Linked DNA regions of Homo sapiens. The protein of the gene in region 2 purifies or fractionates together with the protein of the main gene of each other region. This does not show direct contact. Each region holds a gene or a part of one and is shown on either strand. Other genes may lie near its edges. The genes, in order: ATP1A3 and AGPAT2.

The links.
Region 1: the proteins of AGPAT2 (region 2) and ATP1A3 purify together in Homo sapiens (co-immunoprecipitation; 2 studies listed by BioGRID and IntAct, with this or other methods). This does not show direct contact.

Annotation. Positions count from the first base shown.
Region 1 is NC_000019.10:41,966,331-41,970,230, forward strand, and holds the end of ATP1A3 (sodium/potassium-transporting ATPase subunit alpha-3), read right to left. Parts: coding exon 3,855-3,900; intron 3,251-3,854; coding exon 3,105-3,250; intron 2,586-3,104; coding exon 2,455-2,585; intron 1,434-2,454; coding exon 1,332-1,433; intron 1,011-1,331; coding exon 919-1,010; intron 636-918; coding exon 607-635; 3' UTR 252-606; downstream 1-251. UniProt on the Homo sapiens protein: This is the catalytic component of the active enzyme, which catalyzes the hydrolysis of ATP coupled with the exchange of sodium and potassium ions across the plasma membrane.
Region 2 is NC_000009.12:136,680,631-136,684,530, reverse strand, and holds part of AGPAT2 (1-acyl-sn-glycerol-3-phosphate acyltransferase beta), read left to right. Parts: intron 1-3,900. UniProt on the Homo sapiens protein: Converts 1-acyl-sn-glycerol-3-phosphate (lysophosphatidic acid or LPA) into 1,2-diacyl-sn-glycerol-3-phosphate (phosphatidic acid or PA) by incorporating an acyl moiety at the sn-2 position of the glycerol backbone.

The DNA.
Region 1 (3,900 bases), on a different chromosome or scaffold from region 2:
TCCCACGTCTGCTTCCCTCCCTCTCCCCTGTTCTGATTCCACAATGCCATCGCCTGGTGAATTCAAGCTGCTCTGACTTTCGTGGAGTTGAAAACTCCGTGATTAGATGGCTCTGAGATTCCGTGACTTCCAAGCCAGTGCCAGGCTAAGTTCCTGCAGTTTCGAGAGTCGCCTGGCAGCGCGCCCCAACAGAGGGGATGCTGTCCCAGCCGCAGTCCCCGTCTGGAAAGCAGGCACAACACACACACCGCTTCTCTCTCCCCACTGATATATTTGATAATTGTCCAGAACCAGAGATGGCATCAGCCGGGGGGCTGAAGGGGAGTAAAAAAGAGCCCAGGGAGGTGGCTGGGGCGGGAGGAATGGATAGAGGGGTGAGGAGAGGGAGAGAAACTGACACAGAAAAGAGAGAGGAGAGAGGTTTGGGGCAGGGGAGAGAAGCCAGCCAGAGTGGGGGCGGCAGGAGATAGTGGAGGGGGTGGGGGCCAAGGTGGGGCCACAGGAAGAGAGGGCTCCTCCCCCCAGAATACAAAATTGGGGGGACTGACAGGGGCGGTCCTGGGCCTGGGGGACGGGGAAGAGATGGGCGATGTGGTGGGGCTGAGGTCAGTAGTAGGTTTCCTTCTCCACCCAACCTGGAGAGACAAAGAAGGAAAGAAAGAGACAGAGTAAGAGATGGAGAGAGACAGGCAAGGCGAGCCGCCCAGCAGAGAGAGGGACAGAGAGGGAGAGAGACAAGGAAACCACACAGACAGAGACCCGTGAGAAGACAGAGTGGGTGCCCGGAGAGATGGGAAGAGAGAGAAGAGTGGGAACCAGGTGGCAGAGCCATCCAGCAGGGCGAGGGGAGCCTGGGACCAGCTGCCTGAGACCCTGCTGCCCCCCGCCCCCCTCGGCTGCCTTGCCGAGCTCCCTCACCCCCTGGGTTCCTGCGCAGGATGAGTTTGCGGATTTCGTCGTAGACGAAGATGAGGAAACTGTAGGGGAAGGCACAGAACCACCAGCTGGGCCTGCAGAGGGGAGAGCAGGAGGGCTTGAGTGCGGGGCCCTAACGAGAGGCAGAGTTTCAGGGGACTGGAGGGGACGCAGAGGGGCAGTCTCCCAGGATCCTTCGTGCTCACAGGTGGAGGGTGCCCTGGGCGGGGCTGGGGCCTGGGGTCTTCGGAGTAATCCGTGGTGGGAGCAGCCTATGGGGGAGGCTCGGGGGCATCAGAATGGGGACTGCAGTGGGGACACCAGGGGAGGTGGGGCCTGAGGTTCAGGCTGAGTCTAAGGGAAGGCTCCATGGCAGGCGCTGGTGTGGGCAGGGCTGGGGGCAGCGGGGCACTCACTTGAGAGGGTACATGCGCAGGGCCACGTCCATGCCGGGGCAGTAGGACAGGAAGGCAGCCAGGGCCGTCTCCTCAAACAGCCCGAAGATCAGGATCTTGTTCCTGGAGGCACAGAAGGGCAGGGCTGGGCCCAGAGAGCACCCACCCTGCACCTGCCACCCCGCAGAGACAGGGGGAGGCACAGTGCAGACACCCAGAGACAGCAGCACAGACACAGAGACAGAGAGGCAGAGACATAGGGAGAGACAGAGATGGGGAGACATGCCCCGACAGAGAGAGACAAAGATAGAGGCAGAGCGATGGTGACACAGAAAGAGACAAAAGACAGGGACAGACACAGAGACAGGGACAGACACAGAGACAGACAGGGACAGACAGAGAGACAGACACAGGGACAGACACAGAGACAGGGACAGAAACAGACACAGAGACAGGGACAGACACAGAGAGGCACTGGTATAAAAAGAAAAGGCCAGGGGCACCTCCACCACACACACAGAGGCTGAGAGAGAATCTAGGACACACAGGACCCCTTGAGAGAAAATCAGTGCAGTGGCAAAACCCAAAATGGGCTGGGCATGGTGGCTCACACCTGTAATCCTAGCACTCTGGGAGGCTGAGGCAGGAAGATTGCCTGAGCTCAGGAGTTTGAGACCAGCCTGGGCAACATGGTGAAACTCTACTAAAAATACGAAAAATTAGCCGAGCCTGGTGGTGCGTACCTGTAATCCCAGCTACTTGGGAGGCTGAGGCATGAGAATCGCTTGAACCCGGGAGGCGGAGGTTGCAGTGAGCCAAGATTGTGCCACTGCACTCCAGCCTGGGCAACAGAGCAAGACTCTGTCTCTAAATAAATAAATAAAAATTAGCCATATATGATGGTGCACACCTGTAGTCTCAGCTACTCAGGAGGCTGAGGTGGGTGGGTCACTTGAGCCCAGGAGGTCGAGGCTGCAGTGAGCTATGATTACACCACTGAACTCCAGTCTGGGTGACAGAGTGAGACCCTGCCTCAACAAAACAACAAAAAACCAAAGCAAGGACACAAGAGGAAGTACACAGACAGACAGACACTCGGACAGGACAGATGGCTGTCCAGTCACCATGTGCCCCCGGCCCTCACTTCATGCCCTGCTGGAAGACCGAGTTCCTCCGGGTCTTGCAGATGATCAGATCGGCCCACTGGACGACAACGATGCTCACAAAGAAGGCCGTGTGGCAGGTGAACTCCACCACCTTCCTCTGCTCGTATGTCTGCAGGAGCGGTGACCAGGGCACGGGACGTCAGTTAGTGGCACTGCAGCCCTAGCCGCCACCCCGACGTTCCGGTGCTCTTTGCCCCGCCCCATCCTGCATGGGGTCCTCAGGGCCTCAGGTGTGTCTTCCTTCTGCGGGCTCATAGTCCCGAGGGAGGAGTCAGGAGACGTACAAGGAAGAAGAAAGGTTAATGGTGATCTCACCATCCACCAGGGGCCAGGGAGGAGGATAAGGACCCTGTGGGCCTCCCAAGGAGGACAGACAGCAACTGGGCTTTGAAGGGACAGACAGAGGTGGGGAAGAAGGCCTGGCAGGGCAGAGAGCTCCAGCAGTGGGACACAAGGCTCCAGATGGGCTGGGCCAAGGGCATCCAGGAAGCCCCAGGTGCCCAGCAAAGGCCTTGATGCTGCCATGGGAGACTGAGGGGGCCATCGTAGGAAGTGGCCATGCATGGCTGGAACAGCTCACCCCGGGGATCTTACGGTGGGCAGAGACACAGCACCCTGCCCTACTCACCCACTGCTGCCCGTAACTGTCTTCCAGGTCATTGACGGTGCGGTCATCCCAGTTCAGCCGGATGCCCACCAGGTTGCCGGGCAAGAAGCCATTTTCTGCCAGGATCACAAAGTAAGAGAAGAAGCCACCGAGAGCCTGGATCATTCCTGGAAGGAGGAGAGAGGAAGCCGAGGAGAGGCTCAGATTGGGGCCAGCAGCCAACCCAGGGCACCTCAGAGGGCCCGGAGGCCTCCTTGGAGAGGGGAGTATGCCCTCCTGGCCCTGTTATCTGGACATTGGTTCCCAGAGGGTGACCTGAGGTCTCACTTGGTGGTGAGGCCCTGAGATGGGTGGGCCACCTGGGACAGGGGCTTTGGAGAGAGGGCTCTCCCAGAGGGATAACCTGGAGCCCCTCTCTCACCTGACCTAGGCCACCTAAACATCATGAATTCTTGGGGGATCCCCAGCTTGAGCTCCCTACGCAGGAATGACCTCCCTGGGCCTGGAACCACTGCCATGAAGTCTCTGCTTGCTGGGACAGCCCCCAAGGGTGGCTGCTCCACTCCTCTGGGGATCCGCACACATCAACAGCAGAGAGGAGGAGGTGGAGAAGGATGGGGTGCAGACCCCCCCCACAGATAGCTCACTGGTTGGTCCTGCCCACGTCTGCTCCCCTGAGTCAATGCCAGGGTCCCAAGCACCCACGGTGGGCCAGGCACTGCTCTAGGCCCGGCACTGGGTGGTAAGGAGATGGAGTCCCCGGTGCCTCACCAATCTGCCCGTAGGCCATGCTGATGAGTCTCTCATTGACCAATTT
Region 2 (3,900 bases):
ACCCCCACCGTCTACACCGTAGTTCTGAGCGTGTGAGGGACAGTGATGGGACTAGAACCTCTGAGGCAGCCTTCGTTCCCACCGGGCTTGGGGCTGAGACCACGGACCCCTTCCAGGCAGGGGGTGTCCCCTGAGCCCTTCCCTGTGTGCGCAGTTACGGTGGAGCTGCAGGGGACGTTTCCTCACCAGGGGCCGATGCCCTGGTACATCCATTCGACAGAGGAAAGCAAAGCCCAGAGCGGCTCCGTGTCCTACAGCTGGGTTCAGCTACAGGATCAGAAAACCCTCAAGACAGCAGCTTAATCCACAGAGAAGTTTACTTTTTCATACAGCAAAGGAGACCAGATGGGCAGCCTAGGGAAACAGCAGTTAGTTTCCGGCTCCTTTGACCTCTATTCCCACCATTTTCAGGGTCCCAGACAGAAAAGGGGTGCTCTTCCTCTTAAGGATGCTCCCCGAATTGAACCCCACGCTCTGCTGGTATCTGGAGGCCGGGACCTAGTGGTTGTGGCAGCTCCTGGCTGCAGGGCAGGCTCCTGTCCCCATGGAGCACGTGCCCACACCACACGCCCAGTGTGGGGAGAACGCACAGGGGACTTGGGATGTCGGGCAAGGTTTGACCCAGATTTGCCGGCCAGTGCATGGTCCCGGGTCCTCTGACAGATGTCCGGTGATGACAGATGCCATCGGGGGCCCTGTGTCACCACAGCACTGGGGTCTTAGTCCCAAGGGAGACCGTGACCTTGGTCCTCCAGAGCGCTCCAGGTGTCTCTGTGCAGGCCCAGAAATTGGAGCTGTCCTGACTGAGGGATGGGAGGGCTTCTCTGGCCCCACCTCCTTCCCGCCCGCCACACCTGCACTCCTACACATCCGCTTTGAGGAGTCACGGGGACCCCCCACATCCGGGTGTTTGTGTGGGCTGGACCCCGCACCCCTATGGACCCATCCCGCCTTGTGCTGCAGCTTGGATGACACTTGTCGGAAAACACCAGATTCCTCACTGGGGTCCCTGTCCCCGGTGGCCCCAGCGAGCCCCAGCAGAGGGGGAGGGGGCTGCCCTGAATGAGCTCACGCAGCTGAAGATGGGCAAGTCCTGGCTCAGAGAGCTGCTGGGTCTCCTGGGAGTGTCCCAGCCCAGGACCAAGGCAAGGGTCAGCGAGTGGCCTTCCACGAGGACAGCCTGGCCAGTGGCCTGGGCCCTGACCTAGAACCGCCTCCCAGCTGCCTGAGCCAGGTGCTGGTGGGATTGGGGGCTTAGGCACATTGAGGGGCCTTTTGCTTCGATTTACTTTGGACTTTTTTTTTTATTTTTTGAGACAAGGTCTCGCTCTGTTGCCCAGGTTGGTCTTAAACCCCTGAGCTCAAGTGATCCGTCTGCCTCAGCCTCCCAAAGTGCTGGGGTCACAGGCATGAGCCACCGTGCCCGGCCCCACCCATTTTGGATTCTTCCCCCCCTCCCCCCCACCCCCTAGTCATCCCCATCACAGCCACTGTTGGTGGAGGTCCTGCCCTGGCCCGATGGTGCCCCGGGTGTCTCCGCCTCATAGAATGTAAGCCTGCACACCCTTCCACAAGAGCCTGGGAGGTCAAATGCTTTGCCCGAGGCCATAGCTGGGAAGAAGGGAAATGGGATCCAAATCCCCGTCAGGCCCAGAGCCTGAGTGTGGGAGCAGCCCAGGTGCCTGGGGGCTGAGCTCAGGCGGTCTGAGGAGGCTGGGTTCCTGCAGACCCCAGAGGGGTCTCTTACGGGGCTTCGCTCGAGGCCAGTGGACTCCAGTCTGAGGGCTCCTGAAAAAGACTGAGGCAGCACCTGGGCTTTCCCTCAGCAGGAGCCCACTGCTCCGATGCCACCAGAAGGGCCCAGTCTGGGCTCAGCCTCACTTAGTTTTGGGTGCTGGGCTGCTCCCTGGGCCTCCTGCCTTGCTGGGCAAAGCTGGCACAAGTCACCCGCCTGGCAGTGGCCAGCAGGGCTCCCTGAGCTCCAGGCTTCCGGCAACCTTGGCTTTGCCCCTGCTCCCCGGGGAGGCAAGGAGTCCAGGACCTGGATTTGGGGTCCGTGTGACTGTGTCCTGGTCTGGCACAGCGACACCTGCCCCAGGCTTTGAGGAAAGGACAGGGCAGCCCCTCGTCCGCCTGTGGTTGGTGGGAGGGGAGTTTGAGTGAGGCAGGGTGTTTGGCACAGGACAGGGACTGGGCTGGGCAAGCTGGTGGGGGAAGCCTGGGGACAGTGGCTGCTCTGAGCTTCCTGCTGGGGGAGGCCGGAGCAAGCTCCCAGCCCTGCTGAGGGGTTGAGGGGACTGCGGAGCCCGGGGGAGGGAGGGAGCCTCAGGATGAGCTCCTAGAGTCCTACTGGGGGCCCGCGCCGCCCCAGCACGACTCTGCCAGCTCCGAAGCAGGGTTCCGAGGGGGGCTCAGGCCTGTTCTGGCTTCCCTGCTGTGTGGCCTTGGGGAAGTCACTTAACTTTGCTGAACCTTGAACCTCGCATTCCTCATCTGAAGAGGGGGGTTATGATCGTACCTACCCTGGGGGGTTACTGTCAGAACAAAAGGAGGTGACTCATGTAGAGCCCTTGTCTCGAGGCTTTGCACACAGGAGGTGCAGGGGGCCTCTGTGCTTAGAAGGCGATTTTTCTCTGCTTGGGTTCCCGGGGGTGTCCTCGGCCGCAGGAGCCTCTGCAGGGCTTAGTTCAGTCCCTTCCTCTCTGAGGAAACACTTTTTTTGTGTGTGTGAGATGAAGTCTTGCTCTGTCACCCAGGCTGGAGTACAATGGCACCATCTCGGCTCAACGCAACCTCCTCCTCCCTGGTTCGGGTGATTCTCCCGCCTCAGCCTCCCGAGTAGCTGGGATTACAGGCAGCTGCCACCACGTCTGGCTGATTTTTGTATTGTTAATAGAGACGGGATTTCACCATGGTGGCCAGGCTGGTCTTGAACTCCTGACCTCAGGTGATCTGCCCGCCTTGGCCTCCCAAAGTCCTGGGATTACAGGCGTGAGCCACCCGCCCATCCAGGAACCGCTTGTAAAGTGAGTCTAGACTTTCCCACCAGCTTTCAGAAAGCTCTGAACTATGTACGGGACACCGCGGGGGAAGTGCGGTGGCCTCACGTGGCTGGTGCAGATGGCCCTTTGTCCCCTTGAGGACATCAACTTCAACTTTCTTCCACCCCCAGGGTATACCTTTCTCCCCCAGCCACACTGTGGGCTGCAGAGTTCTAGAGAGCCACAGCCTCCCGCTGGCCTGGGGCAGCCTCCGTCCGTCCATCTGTCTGGCCTGAGGACCAGGGGCCGGTGGTGGGCGGCGGGACACAGCGCCTGCTCAGCACCGCCTGCTGGGCGGGGGTTTGTACCCCGTGTCTTTCACAGCTGAGAGAAGTATCAGTGCACGATCCAACCCCTAAGCAGCTTAGATTAAAAAAAAAAAAAAAAGGAAAAGTTTTGGAGCTAGAGGGTGGTGCTGGCCACACGGCAGTGAATGCGCCGAGTGCCACGGAACCGTGTGCTGAGAAATGGGTACAATTATATTGTTTAGGTGGTGCGTGTTATACCACAATCAAAACAGAGGAGGGCTCGGCGCGCTGGCTCCTTCCTGTCATCCCAGCACTTTGGGAGGCCGAGGCGGGCGGATCATGAGGTCAGGAGTTTGAGACCAGCCTGGCCGACATGGTGAAACCCCGTCTCTACTAAAAATACAAAAATTAGCCGGGTGTGGTGGCGCACACCAGTAGTCCCAACTACTTGCTAGGCTGAGGCAGGAGAATCGCTTGCCGGGAGGTGGAAATGGCAGTGAGCTGAGATCTCGCCACTGCACTCCAGCCTAGGTGACAGCAAGACTCCGTCTCAAAAAAAATAAAAAATAAATGAAGATCTTATTTTTTAATAATTTCAGATTTACAGAGAA